3 separate regions of the Homo sapiens genome follow, and all the other regions are reported to be linked to region 1. The links are microRNA targets in miRTarBase. Many come from high-throughput screens and were not tested one by one. Region 1 holds a microRNA gene; each other region holds the end of a gene's coding sequence.
Evidence for each region. Region 1 holds the annotated microRNA hsa-miR-767-5p (UGCACCAUGGUUGUCUGAGCAUG, at 1,995-2,017, shown strand). A microRNA usually pairs through its seed, bases 2 to 8, with sites in the 3' UTR of a target mRNA and lowers its output. Matches are read on the target gene's strand: a 7mer-m8 pairs with bases 2 to 8, a 7mer-A1 pairs with bases 2 to 7 and ends in A, and an 8mer does both.

Region 1 (4,246 bases):
GTCTGAATGGATACCACTCCTGAAGGATAGCCAACTGCTTGTGTATTTTATGTGTATACTAATTGATTCTCTGTGTATACATCATAGATATTGCTCACCCATCATTAATGTGTAAAAAATAAACATAATCTCCTTCTGTGTGGAGAATGATAACTTTAATAACATGAATATTAGTTCCTGAATTGTGGTCACTGGCTCCTGCAGAATGGGTATTTTCTCCATATTTGCTGTCTGTTCCTGTATCATGCTTACTAACTGTATCATAGCTGTTAGTTTGTGTAATGGGATCGTTTGGATTTATATCATGCCCAAACACAAATGTGTAGAGTCAATCACCATGGTTATTTTTTTTATGAGTCATTATGTCCATGTGAGTCTTTTTTTTGTACCACTGTCATCTTCTCTTGGGCCAAAGTCATTAATTGCTTGCATGGTTATTTTTGATTACATACCATATCTACCCAAGTAAGAATCACACCATGTTTTATTTCCATATCATGTCCATCTGCACCTGTGTCATAATTGATAGCCTATGTCCTGTAGGTGTCTGACTGGACCTCATGAACACATATTAAAACATGCTTTTTGGCATCTTATTCATCTGAACATCCTGTATTATTTTGATCTTCTTTTTGACAAAATGCCATACATACCCGTATTTTTTGTATCACCTGAGCAGTTTTTACTCTGTGATTCTTTCCTGGGATACCATATCTATCCCCTTTTTCATGTATGAATTGACCTATTCTCCATGATAATATAAACATACATAATGAATTTGTGCTCATATACTGTGATTGAAGTTGTACTACGTATTTAAACTTAAACACCACACTTGTGTGAAAATACACAATCATTGTCTACTTGTACTGGGAATGAGTATTTTGTACTATGTATATTAATTTCTACACCATGTCTTTCACTATTGTGATGAGTTTTCTCTGTCCTTTGTCATCTGTCTACTCCCTATAACCTGGTATCAGCTCATGTTGCAGATCTTCTGTGTGTGCATCGTGGTCAAATGCTCAGACTCCTGTGGTGGCTGCTTATGCACCACGGATGTTTGAGCATGTGCTATGGTGTCTACTTTTGCAACATTGCCATCTGCTTCTGGAACAAAGCCACTCATTTTTCTGCTCTGTTTTAAAATCTGGTATCATGTCTGTCAGAAGAATCACAGCATATTGTCATTTATTGTCATATTTACAATAATGGATAGTGGAGCCAAAATGACTGAATTTGAATCCTGGATTATCCACTTACTAGCTATGAGATCTTGGACACATCAGTTCATGAAATGGACACATCAATTCGTATCTTCATGCTTCAGTTTCCTGCAAAATGACAAAAAAAGTAGTAAGGTTATTGTGAGGATTGTATAAGCTATTATACATAAAATATTTTTAATACTGCCTGGCAGGTAGTGATGATGATGATAACAATGATGATGATGATGATGACATGACAATGATGATAATGATACTGTGTCCCTTGATCGTGTATAATAATTGTCAGCTCAAATTCTGGAGTTCTCTAAGTGTGCATTATGGTCAAATGCTGATACTTGTGATAGTGTTTAAAGCATCATTATATAAGTATATGCCATGGCAGTCATTTGAATCGTTGCCATCTGTAGTATTCTATTAGCTACTGCACTATCGTTTTCTGCTATTTTATTATCAGCATCTTCTTCAATATCCTTGTTCATCTGCTCCTATATTATGGTCATCAGCTTATTTTTGTTGGGATATCTGGGTGTACATCGTGGTTTAACAGTCAAATATTAGTGTTAGTTGCTCATGCACCATGATTGCCTGAGTATGTGCCATGATATCTCCTCCAGCATCATTGTCATATGCTGTTTGCCTAAATAAGTTGTATTCATGTGTTATGTTTCCTTTATTCATATGTCCTGTCCATCTGGGCATATTCCTCATTGTGTTATTCACTCTTGTATCACACCCACCTGCTTTTATATTGTAGGTTTTTGCTCATGCACCATGGTTGTCTGAGCATGCAGCATGCTTGTCTGCTCATACCCCATGGTTTCTGAGCAGGAACCTTCATTGTCTACTGCTTTACAGGGAAATAGTGTTTTATGCATCGTGTATATGAGTTTAGTATTTACTCATATTCTATGACTCTCTACTCTTAGATCACTTCTGCCTTTTTCTGCACATTGTTTATCTGTTCCAAAAAGACAGATGTTATCTCATGTCACTGGGCTTTCTAATTGTACATCAGTCAAATGCTTAAATGCCTATGATGTGATGGCTGTTCATGCAACATGGCTGTTTCAGCATATATCATAACTTCACCCGTTTAATCATTGCCATCTTCTCCCAGACTAAAGAAAATAATGATTTTTAATCACCAACCATATCCGTTTTGGTAATCATGGTTTCATGTCTACCTGCTCCTGTATCATTCTTTTACTTTATGTCGTGGGATTGTGTAGGTAGCCATCATAGTCAAATGCCCAAATACTAGTGGTGGCTGTTCATGCAATGGTCATCTGAGTATATGGTGTCAGGTCTCTTTTGACATATCTGACATCTACTCATGGACAAAGCTGTTTACCCCTGTACCGTGGCTCTTGTATAAGGCACAATATCTGTCTAAGTAAGCACCACAGCATGGTTTTATTCTCCGAAAACAAGTTTGTGTGCTGTATCTATCTATGCCTCTTAGCTCCTTTGGCATAAATGCTACGTAATAGTGTAAACTACTTTTGTGTACCTGTGTAAGTCAAGATCAAACAGTCAAATATCACTAATGGCTTTCATCAACTTTTGTCTGAACATGTTACACGGTGGGTCCTCTATGCACCTTTGCCACCTACATTTGAAATAATCATTCATGTATTGAGATGTTTTGATCTTGTACTATATCCATCTATGAGGTCTCCACTTATGATTATTTTCTCATAAGATGTCTCTTGGCTCTAAGTGAGCCCTGGCTAATTTTCCATGGTTGTATGAATGTGCTTATGCCCTTTAGCTATGGTCTTCTGCTCATTCATCATGATTTGTGAAAATGCACCATCGTTGTCTACATTGTACTAAAAATGGAATTTTCTGTACCATGAATATAATTTTGTGCACCATGATTTTTTGTCATACAGTGTGTTTGCCTCCTTCTTCGTCCTCAGTATCTACTCCTATATATTGGATGTCAGCTTCTGTTGCAGAACCTGAGTGTGCATCGTGGTCAAATGCTCAGACTCCTGTGGTGGCTGCTCATGCACCACGGATGTTTGAGCATGTGCTACGGTGTCTACTTTTGCTACATTGCCGTCTGCTTCTGGACCAAAGCCATTTGTTCCTGTGCTCTGTGTTTCTAATCTTGTATCACATCCATATGAGGAAGCATGGCACCATCAGTGTATGTGCACAATGCTCACTGCTTGGACTTAAATCCCAGTTCTCCTATTTAATAGTTTGAAATTCTTGAGGAAGTCATTTCACCCTTCTGTTTCTGTTTTCTAAACTGTAAAATAAATAATAATACCTCATAGAGTTGTGAGGATTCAAAGATGCACATGTAGAATGCTTAGATTAGTGCCTGACACATATAAATGATAAGTATTTGCTGATATTGTTATATTATTTGTATTATGTCTCTTTATTCTTTATCATGACTTTTAGCTTGCATTCTGAGAATGTCTGGTTGTGTACCTTAGTCACATGCTAAATTACTGGTGGTGGCTGTCCATTCAGCATGGTCGTCTGATGTTATACCTTGGTTTTTCCTTTTGCACATATACCCTTTACTCCTTTGGCAAAGTCATTCATTGCTGTGTTGTATTTCATTATTCATCGTGTCTTTCTGAGAAAGAATAGCACAGTAGTTGACTACTATTCTATTTCCACCTGTACCTGTATCATAATTGATAGCTCACCTTTCAGTGTATATTGGTGTGTATTGTGGTTAAATTCTCAAACACCAGTGGTAGTTTTTCTTCCATGTGATCATTGGAGCGCATGTCATGGTGTCTCCTACCATTGCCATCTCCTCCTAAACCAAGGAATTCTTTCCCGTATTGTGGCTTTTCGATTATATATTGTGATCATCTGTACAATTTCAACTATGTGGCTATTTTCTTTGTGTCATGTCTGTTTTCTTTTATGTGTAAGTATTGGCTCATTCTCCATGGTAGACTGAGCACGCGTAAGGAATTTCTGCTCATATATTGTGTATGGGGTTGTACTATAGACTTTCGCTCATACACTATGGTTGTGTAAAA
Region 2 (4,246 bases), not on the chromosome of region 1:
CGGAGAAACCCCATCTCTACTAAAAAAATACAAAAACTAGCTGGGTGCGGTGGCTCATACCTGTAGTCCCAGCTACTCGGGAGGCTGAGGCAGGAGAATTGCTTCAACTTGGGAGGCGGAGGTTGCAGTGAGCCGAGATCGCGCCACTGCACTCCAGCATGGGCAACAGTGCAAGACTGTCTCAAAAAATAAAAAATAAAGAAAAAACCGTATTAAAACCTAACGGTACTAATATTAATATTCATCTAATTTCATGTTTTGGTAAGTAATTATTAATCAGTATGATTTTGATTACATCATTCCAGCTACTTACTACTAATATGTAAGATATTCTGGAGCGACATTAAAATTACTAGTAAATGAAAACATATTCAAAATACTCTGTAGATTTAATGTCCAAAGATTACTGCCTCTTTTAGTGTCATCAGGTAAACCTATCAATGTTCTTTTCTAATGCTATATTTAAATGGAGGGAGGAGGCTTAATGAATAACGAACAAAATCTTGACTTTCAGGTTTTGTGAAGGAATGTTTAAATTTCTGAATACAGAACCCTAAGACTGTTACAACCCTCAGGACACAAATATCTATAGCGGCAGTTCTCAACGAGTGGTCCAGAGATCTCTGCAGTACCTGAGATATTTTCATGCTGCCTATGAGGTTAAAGCTATTTTAAATCAGTCTTTTTCTCGAGTGTACATGAAATTTTCCTGAGGTTACATGATGTGTGACGGTATCATTCTGATGACTAATGAAGACACGTATTTTTAAGTTTTAAAGTTTTAATTTCTAGCACAGTAAATATTGATAATATAAACGAAAAGATCGAGTCCTCAACTTTTTTTTAGGAGACAGGGTCTCGCTCTGTCACCCAGGCTGGAACACAATGGTACAATCACAGCTCACTGCAGCCTTGATATCTTGGGGTCAGGTGATTCTCCTGCCTCAGCCTCTCAGGTAGCTGGGACCATGGGCACACGCCACCATGCCAGGCTACTCATAAAATTATTTGTAGAAGCCGGGTGCAGTGGCTCATGCCTGTAATCCCAGCACTTTGGGAGGCCGAAGCAGGCAGATCACGAGGTCAGGAGATCGAGACCATTCTAGCTAACGTGGCGAAACCCCATCTCTACTAAAAATACAAACAATTAGCCAGGCATGGTGGCGGGTGCCTGTAGTCCCAGCTACTCGGGAGGCTGAGTCTGGAGAATGGCATGAACCCAGGACGCGGAGCTTGCAGTGAGCCGAGATCACACCACTGCACTCCAGCCTGGATGACAGAGAGAGACTCTGCCTCAAAAAAAAAAAAAAAAATTATTTGTAGAGACAAGGTCTCTTCCCTACGTTACCCACGCTACTTTCAAACTCCTGGGCTCAAGTAATCCTCCCACCTCAGCCCCAAAGTGCTGAGATTACAGATTACAGGTGTGAGCCACCACGCTCGGCAAGAAAATCTTTAAATACCTAACCAGTAACACTAATGTTCAAGGGACCATGAGTACACATTAAAAAAAAAAATCACATCTAGGGCTCATTTTGTTAGCAAAAATATTAAAAATTCAAACAATCAAGATTAGCATGGCCCCTGTGCCAAGAATGACACGTAAATTCTTGAAGTGTTTCATTTTTTAAGTCACATCTAGATAAACAAGAACTTTCAACAGCTGAAAGACCCCAGGCAACAACAATCCCTATTTGTTAGAAATCCAACTAAATCAGTACAGTTGTGACAAAAAGGGTAAAGAAAAAGAGAACAAGTAAGCCGAATGAAGGAGGCGGCAGGAAGACAACTATGGGTAGAAGCAGTTCCCTTCAAACAACCCAAGCAAATCCTGCTTCTTTGGAACTTACTCCTATTTCCCTCCTGCACTCATTATCCCTCTTGTATTGCTGCTGTAACTCTCGCCATCTGAACTTATCTGCTGCTTTGCATTTTAATTGTTTTCTGAGGGTTTTTTTTTTTTTTTTTTTGAGACAGAGTTTCACTCTTGTTGCCCAGGCTGGAGTGCAATGGCACAATCTTGGCTCACTGCAACCTCTGCCTCCTGAGTTCAAGCAATTCTCCTGCCTCAGCCTCGTGAGTCGCTGGGATTACAGGCGTGCGCCACAACGCCCAGCTAATATTTGTATTTTTAGTAGAGATGGGGTTTCTCCATGTTCATCAGGCTGGTGTCGAACTCCTGACCTCAGGTGATCCGCCCGCCTCAGCCTCCCAAAGTGCTGGGATTACAAGCGTGAGCCACTGCACCCAGACGCATTTTAATTCTTAACGTCTGCCATCCTCTACCCAAGTACAGACCACTTTAGTGTCCCTATCAAAGGGGAGAAACGTTGCCCTTTACAACTTTTGGGTTATTTTAATACTGTGTTGTCTATTGACATTTTTGGCTCATGTTTCTAGAGTAAACCCACAAAAGTAAACAATTATAGACAGAAAAAAGCTGACCATAATTTTACACAGGTGAAAATGCCCTTAATTAATGCTCAGAGTAAGTAATAATTTAGGGAAAATAAAAAAAACAGTCATGTAAACTTCTAACTTTTTAGCTAAGACTCAAGACAGCAAACTGCCAAAGCTGCTATGGATTAGCGCTACGTACCAAAGCTAAAGCGTCTCATTCCATAAAGGCCATACCAGAAAACAAAGCACGCACCTGAAAAACCACTGTCTAAATACAAGAAGGAATACACAAATATACAATGGTTTTTGTAAGGCATCAACACAAGCACATTGTTCTTTGAAATTTAAAGAAAAAATTTATTGAAGATCTGAAAAACAATTCCTAAAAGATTGACTTTTCCAGAAAACTAGCTACACAATGCATTGCGTCTATCATGTTAAAACGTGCATTAGACACAAATACAAAAACCATGAAACAAGCCACCATTCTTCAACAATTTGAGCCAAGATAAAATGCCTAAGTAACAACATGGATGACTTGCAAAGGATGGGCTCTTTACTTTAAGCACCATAAAAAAAAACAAAAGCACAAATGGATGAGTGTGTTCAGTTATATACACTGAATTGAACCTTTGGCACTAGGAATCAGAGCATTTTGTCATATAGCATTAACATGTATTATAAAAGTGCGTAGTGTCAAAGGAATAGAACCACCAGCATTCAAAAGCAGCTTTGTCAACTAGGCAATAAAACACTCTACAGCATATCCCTCTGTTGTCCATCATTGAAAACACTGGCAGCAATTTTGAAATGAAAAAAAAAAAGAAAGAAGAAAAAAGGAGCTATTACCCCCTTTTATTTTTTCTCTGTTTAAAATCAAACAGAAAACAAACATCAATTGTTATACACTAACATCTTCAAAGCACATCGTTTGTACAAGAGATAGACTAAGAACAAAAATGTGTTTACGGAGATCCAAACATAAGTGAGTGAGAGTGCCTCTCACACAGCTTTCCGATGGTACTCAGGAGGAGCCACTTCATAATCGCTGGCACTGAACAAAGTTGCAGAATTCTTTGCCAGGTACCTAAAAATAAAATATTCATTACAAAAATTTTTAAAGGTCATTATCTTGATCCAAATCTCTTCCTATATATTATATACATAAGCCACAGAAAACACTTTCCTAAAATACATTAAACCAGACATTCTCTCACAGTAAAACCACACATAATGACAATTCAGGTAAATAAATAAGGTTATACAATGAACAACACTATACATATACAAAGGAATGAACTCTGGAGTTACTCCCCTATTTCTAAACAGCAAAGAACAGTTATGTCTGCAGAATACCAACTTGGGAGCTTGAACCATCTTTAAGAAACAGTTATTATCCTATTACATGACAGCATTACCCTAAAAGAACATCTAGACATTTTCTAAAAAAAAAATCGTTATCAGCCGGGAGTGGTGGCTCATGCCTGTAATCCCAGCACTTTGGGAGGCCAAGGCAAGCTGATCACCTGAGGTTGGGGTTCAAGACCAGCCTGACCAAAGTGGAGAAACCCGTCTCTACTAAAGACACAAAATTAGCTGGACATGGTAGCGCATGCCTGTAATCCCAGATACTCGGGAGGCTGAGGCAGGAGAATTGCTTGAACCTGGAGGCAGAGGTTGTGGTGAGCTGAGATCACGCCACTGTACTCCAGCATGGACAAGCGTGAAACTCCATCTCAAAAAAAAAAAAAAAAAAAAAAAGAAAAGAAAAGAAAAAAGAAAAAAATCCTATCAGGCCAAGCACAGTTGCTTACACCTGTAATCACAGCACTTTGGGGGGCCGAGG
Region 3 (4,246 bases), not on the chromosome of region 1:
GCCCAACCAATGGTTCAGTTTTAGCATGAATATAGTGTCAGCACTGTTCACTGGTACTCCTGCAAGAAACAACTTTATCCACTAGAGTACAATGCTGTGTGCAGTTCTCTTTGCCTTTGTTCTTAGAGACGCCACTCATTTCCAAATTACTTATATTATTAATAGCACGTTTCCCCTACCGGCTTCAATGAGCTCCTGAAACTTCTGTGGTTTTTTCTTTTTAAATAAGTGGATGGCCCTTTTCCAGGAAGGCAGCCTCAAGGAAAAGCCACCTCCAGGTGTAACCAGAAGCACTGAGTATTTCTCAGGGGGAAGGACAGCCTTACATTTTATTGGCTGAGCTGAACTTATGCTGTATGAATACAAATAGCTCATAGATGTTTGTAGCTTGGTGCCTTCCTGAGTCTGCAGAGTGAGGCTCTTGCTGTACCACGTGTGGGAGGTGAGGATGCTGTTCCCTCGTTGCCTTCAAGACATCTGCTTGGGTTTGGTCTGTCACTTTAAGATCAGCTCAGTGTTACCCTTCCCTTCCTTGTCTAGCATGTCATGGAATTTACTTTCCAAATCATTCTCCTCCCTTCCCTGCACTGTGCATTTTAAATCACAGTCCTCAACCTCAACACATTTAGAACTCCCAGGTTGCAGCGATTCTCTACCTCCTTCCTCTTAGGTCCTGGACACGTACGAGTGCATACATACCTGCGGCTTTGGGCACGTTCACGTGTAGTGACTGATTTCATTCTCCTGATGTCACTCTGATGCACAGGTACTTTCATTCATTTTACCGGAGGCCCAGCCCACTGAAGCAACCCATCCAGGCCGTCCTTGCCAACGTGCTCTTCTTGGGTGGTTTAAAGGCTGATGTGCTCTCCAGGGCTTGTGAGTCTTCCTGGGCGCCCCTACCCAGTCAGGATGGCTGCAGACGCATCTTCATGCGCATTCCAGCAGCGTCTCTGCCAGGGGTGCTGAAAGTCACTGTCTGAAGCAGCTGGGAGATGGAAGTGATTCTGACTTTGGGGCACCCACCCTCTGGAAAATGTGGCACATCATTAGAGGGTGGTTCAAGCACACTCAGCTCTCAGGGAGCAGTTATTCCTGGCACCAAGAAACTAGCCTGGAAAAAATCTGTCTTTTGCAACATGCAGGATCCATGAAGGACAGAGCTCTGATTTTCAAGGTGCAGGATGTTCAGCGGTTCGATTCCAGATGAGGCATCTCCACTCACTATACTTCAGCGGGATCGTGGGCTCCCTGGCACAGATGTCAGGGTTATGAATTGTGATTGGTTTATATTTTATGATCCACATTTTGGAAACCAATTATTTGTTGAGGATCTTTGTCTTCTCATTTATTTTAGGTCTAGGGTGAAACATTTCTTTTATGTTTAACACTGGGCACTGACGCTGAGGTGTGATCCACACACAAGGTATCAAGCCTACCTCAAGTCGAGCAGGGGTCTTCAGGACTGCAGCACACTTTGCGGTTGCCTCCTTGGCAGTAGGGGTGGAGTCTAGAATGAATTGTTGCTTCCCAGCTTCTAGAGTTGCTGTGGTTGCGAGCTCTGGTCTCTTGATCCCCGTCTCACACGCTCTGGGCCCACTGTTTTGCTACAGCTATTGCTGTGGTGACTGGCCATGAGCAGGTGTGGCCTGACACACCGTGTCTCAGCTCTGCCTGGTTCTCTACCACCTCCACCTGGCATCTGGCAGGAGCCCACTCAGCCATGCTGGTGTGTGGTGCACCTGGGAGTGTGAGGGAATTAGCACCCTCAGGCAACCCCTGACCAGTCGAGACCGCAGCTGATGGAGAACACTTCCCTTTCCAAGCCATGGCTGGACCATCTGAGGATCCTTCCTTGGTGGATCCCCAGCAGGATCAAGCCTAAACAGCCCACAGTGGTAACCCCCTTAGTCCCATGTCCTTGAGTTGGCTTTTCTTCTTCCTGGTATCACCCCCTCCAGGTCCCACTCAGGCTTCCTGATATCGCCTTCCCATATAGCCGTGCTGTGTAGAGGTCGTGGCCTCAGCCAGCTTCTGGGGGAACACGCGCCAGGGCGGCTGCGTATCTATTTCAAATAACATTATAAGGTAGGATACTTATTTCATAATGTGAACCTTTTTCTTAGGAAAACTTCAATTTGAGATTGCATTTCAGAGGGTCAAAATAAACTGTGAGTTGAATCTCGGAGATTGTTTCTTTGAAATACTGAGCTTTGACTTGGGAAGTTATGTGGGATCTTTTTTTTTTTGTAGACATGGATCTCACTATATCGTCCAGGCTGGTCTCAAACTCCTAGGCTCAAGTGATCCTCCCACCTCAGCCTCCCAAAGTGTTGGGATTACAGATGTGAGACACTGCACCCAGCCTATGTTGGAACAAATTGAATGACTTACATTTGTGAAGTACCCTTTCTCCAAATTCCCACAAGTGCTGGTTCAGGTGTTTTCTTTTCTTTTTTTTTTTTTTTTTTTTAGATGGAGTTTCACTTTTGTTGCCCAGGCTGGAGTGCAGTGGCACGATCTCAGCTCACCGCAACCTCTGCCTCCCGGGTTCAAGTGATTCTCCTGCCTCAGCCTCCCGAGTAGCTGAGATTACAATCACCGGAAAATTTTTATGTTTTTAGTAGAGACGGGGTTTCACCATGTTGGCCAGGCTGGTCTCGAACTCCTGACCTCAGGTGATCCAGCTGCCTCGGCCTCCCAAAGTGTTGGGATTACAGGCGTGAGCCAGCACGCATGGCCTGGTTGGGGTGTTTTCTGTAAGCATTAGTGAGTTATAAACAAACACATTCCCCGAGAAATGGCTGTAATACCACGAATGGGTTCAACTCTACTGAGATGGATTAAAAACAGCAGCGTGGGCGGACGCTGTGCCTCGCATCCATCTGAGCAGACGTTTTGCTCTATGGACACGAGATTAAGGCGGTCAACAACTCGGGGTTTAAAAATATTCAGAACCAAGTTTTATTTTGTAGTCGTTACACAGGAGGGGGCAGTCAGAAGAGTACAGCTCACCCCCAGCAGTGGAGGGGTTAAATCTCAGGGACAACGTGGGGCAGTGGGGACAGCACCTCCGACCCTATGGGGTGTACCTTCAAGTAGCAAGGCTGACAATGATGTCTAGAAAGGTCTCCACTTCTGCCTGAGTTTTGCCAAACCCAGTGGTCTATAGGGATGTGGCAAAAGAATGACCTACCGCAGTGTGATTATCAGTGTTTTTTAAAATAAAGAGCACGGTTTTGCCTTTAAAATAATTCACATCAACGGTATTTGGGAGAACATGGAGCTGGCATAACATTGGCGTAGAAAGCAGGGCCAGGCCCACCCACGGGGCCCTCGTGTGGGGACGGGTGCCTGAGGCCCTGAGCCCCTCGAGCCTCTGGCCACGGCTGGCTGCCTGTGTGCTGTTGTCTCGTCTGTCCCACCCCGAGAAGGGAGTTGAACAATGTGAGTTGTCTGTGGCATTGGAAAGTGCAGTGGTTACATGGGTGTGTGCGAAGTGGTTAGCTGTGCCTTCAGGCGGTGCGTCTAGCAGGGCTGATGGGGGCCAGGGCTGCTCCTGGCTTTCTGTGGGCAGGGCTTGCCCTCCAGGGACCCCGAGTGCTTGCACCCGCTCGGTGACAGTGGCTGGCAGGTCTAAGTGCTGCTGCTGGATGCAAATTCCTTTGGTAGACTTTTTTTTTTTTAAGAAAAAAATAAAACCAATTTTTGGGTTGGCACCTGAGGTAATAAGTTAAGAATAAGCACCAAAATGGCCCTTCCTGGCACGCGCCGGCTCACAGGTTCTTCATGCACACCTGGCAGCGGCTGATGTGTGTGCGGATGAGGCCGGCCTTGAGCGTGTCGGCGGAGGGCGAGCCCTGGAAGCTCTGCTCGGGAATGGTGGTCAGCCAGAAGCTGTACTTGTTGGCGTAGTAGTGGCAGGTGCCGCGGCCTCCATTGCATTCGATGAATGGTGTGGCGCGGAAGTCCTCTAGACAGCTGCCCGGTGACACCAGTGATTGGCCACCGCCTTCGTCTCCCGCCGCCGTGTGCTGCACAGAGAGGGGGGCAGGACAGGGTTAGGAATCACAGCCTGCAGGTGGCACGGGGTCAGGGCATAGCCCTCTTCTGTGCATTTGTTTTTACTGAACAGCAAACCATGAGTGTCAATACGGACATGAGGCATCCTCGCGAATGCGCCTTCAGCAAGAGGGGGCTGGTGAAATACACATGGGCCCCCTGCAGGAGGCAGCCCCAGGCACCA

Region 2: miRTarBase lists MORF4L1 as a target of hsa-miR-767-5p. Seed matches in the 3' UTR shown: 7mer-m8 at 2,966-2,972.
Region 3: miRTarBase lists COL4A2 as a target of hsa-miR-767-5p. The part of its 3' UTR that is shown has no 7-base or 8-base seed match.

The regions. Positions count from the first base shown.
Region 1 is chrX:152,391,252-152,395,497 of GRCh38, reverse strand. MIR767 (microRNA 767) reads left to right here and starts at 1,969; the gene lies at 1,969-2,077. All of the region lies in intron 1 of GABRA3 (gamma-aminobutyric acid type A receptor subunit alpha3), which reads left to right. It overlaps MIR105-1 (microRNA 105-1), which reads left to right and starts at 3,199; the gene lies at 3,199-3,279. MIR105-2 (microRNA 105-2) reads left to right here and starts at 1,006; the gene lies at 1,006-1,086.
Region 2 is chr15:78,896,224-78,900,469 of GRCh38, reverse strand. MORF4L1 (mortality factor 4 like 1) reads right to left here. Exons shown (of 12, transcript NM_006791.4): 12 at 2,331-3,487. The coding sequence ends at 3,403. It also overlaps the pseudogene RNU6-415P. Among named protein-coding and RNA genes, the nearest start is that of MORF4L1, 25 kb to the right of the region's middle.
Region 3 is chr13:110,511,722-110,515,967 of GRCh38, reverse strand. It overlaps COL4A2 (collagen type IV alpha 2 chain), which reads right to left. Exons shown (of 48, transcript NM_001846.4): 48 at 2,759-4,034. The coding sequence ends at 3,777. Among named protein-coding and RNA genes, the nearest start is that of COL4A2-AS1, 5.7 kb to the right of the region's middle. RefSeq lists enhancers at 1,199-1,698, 3,424-4,052.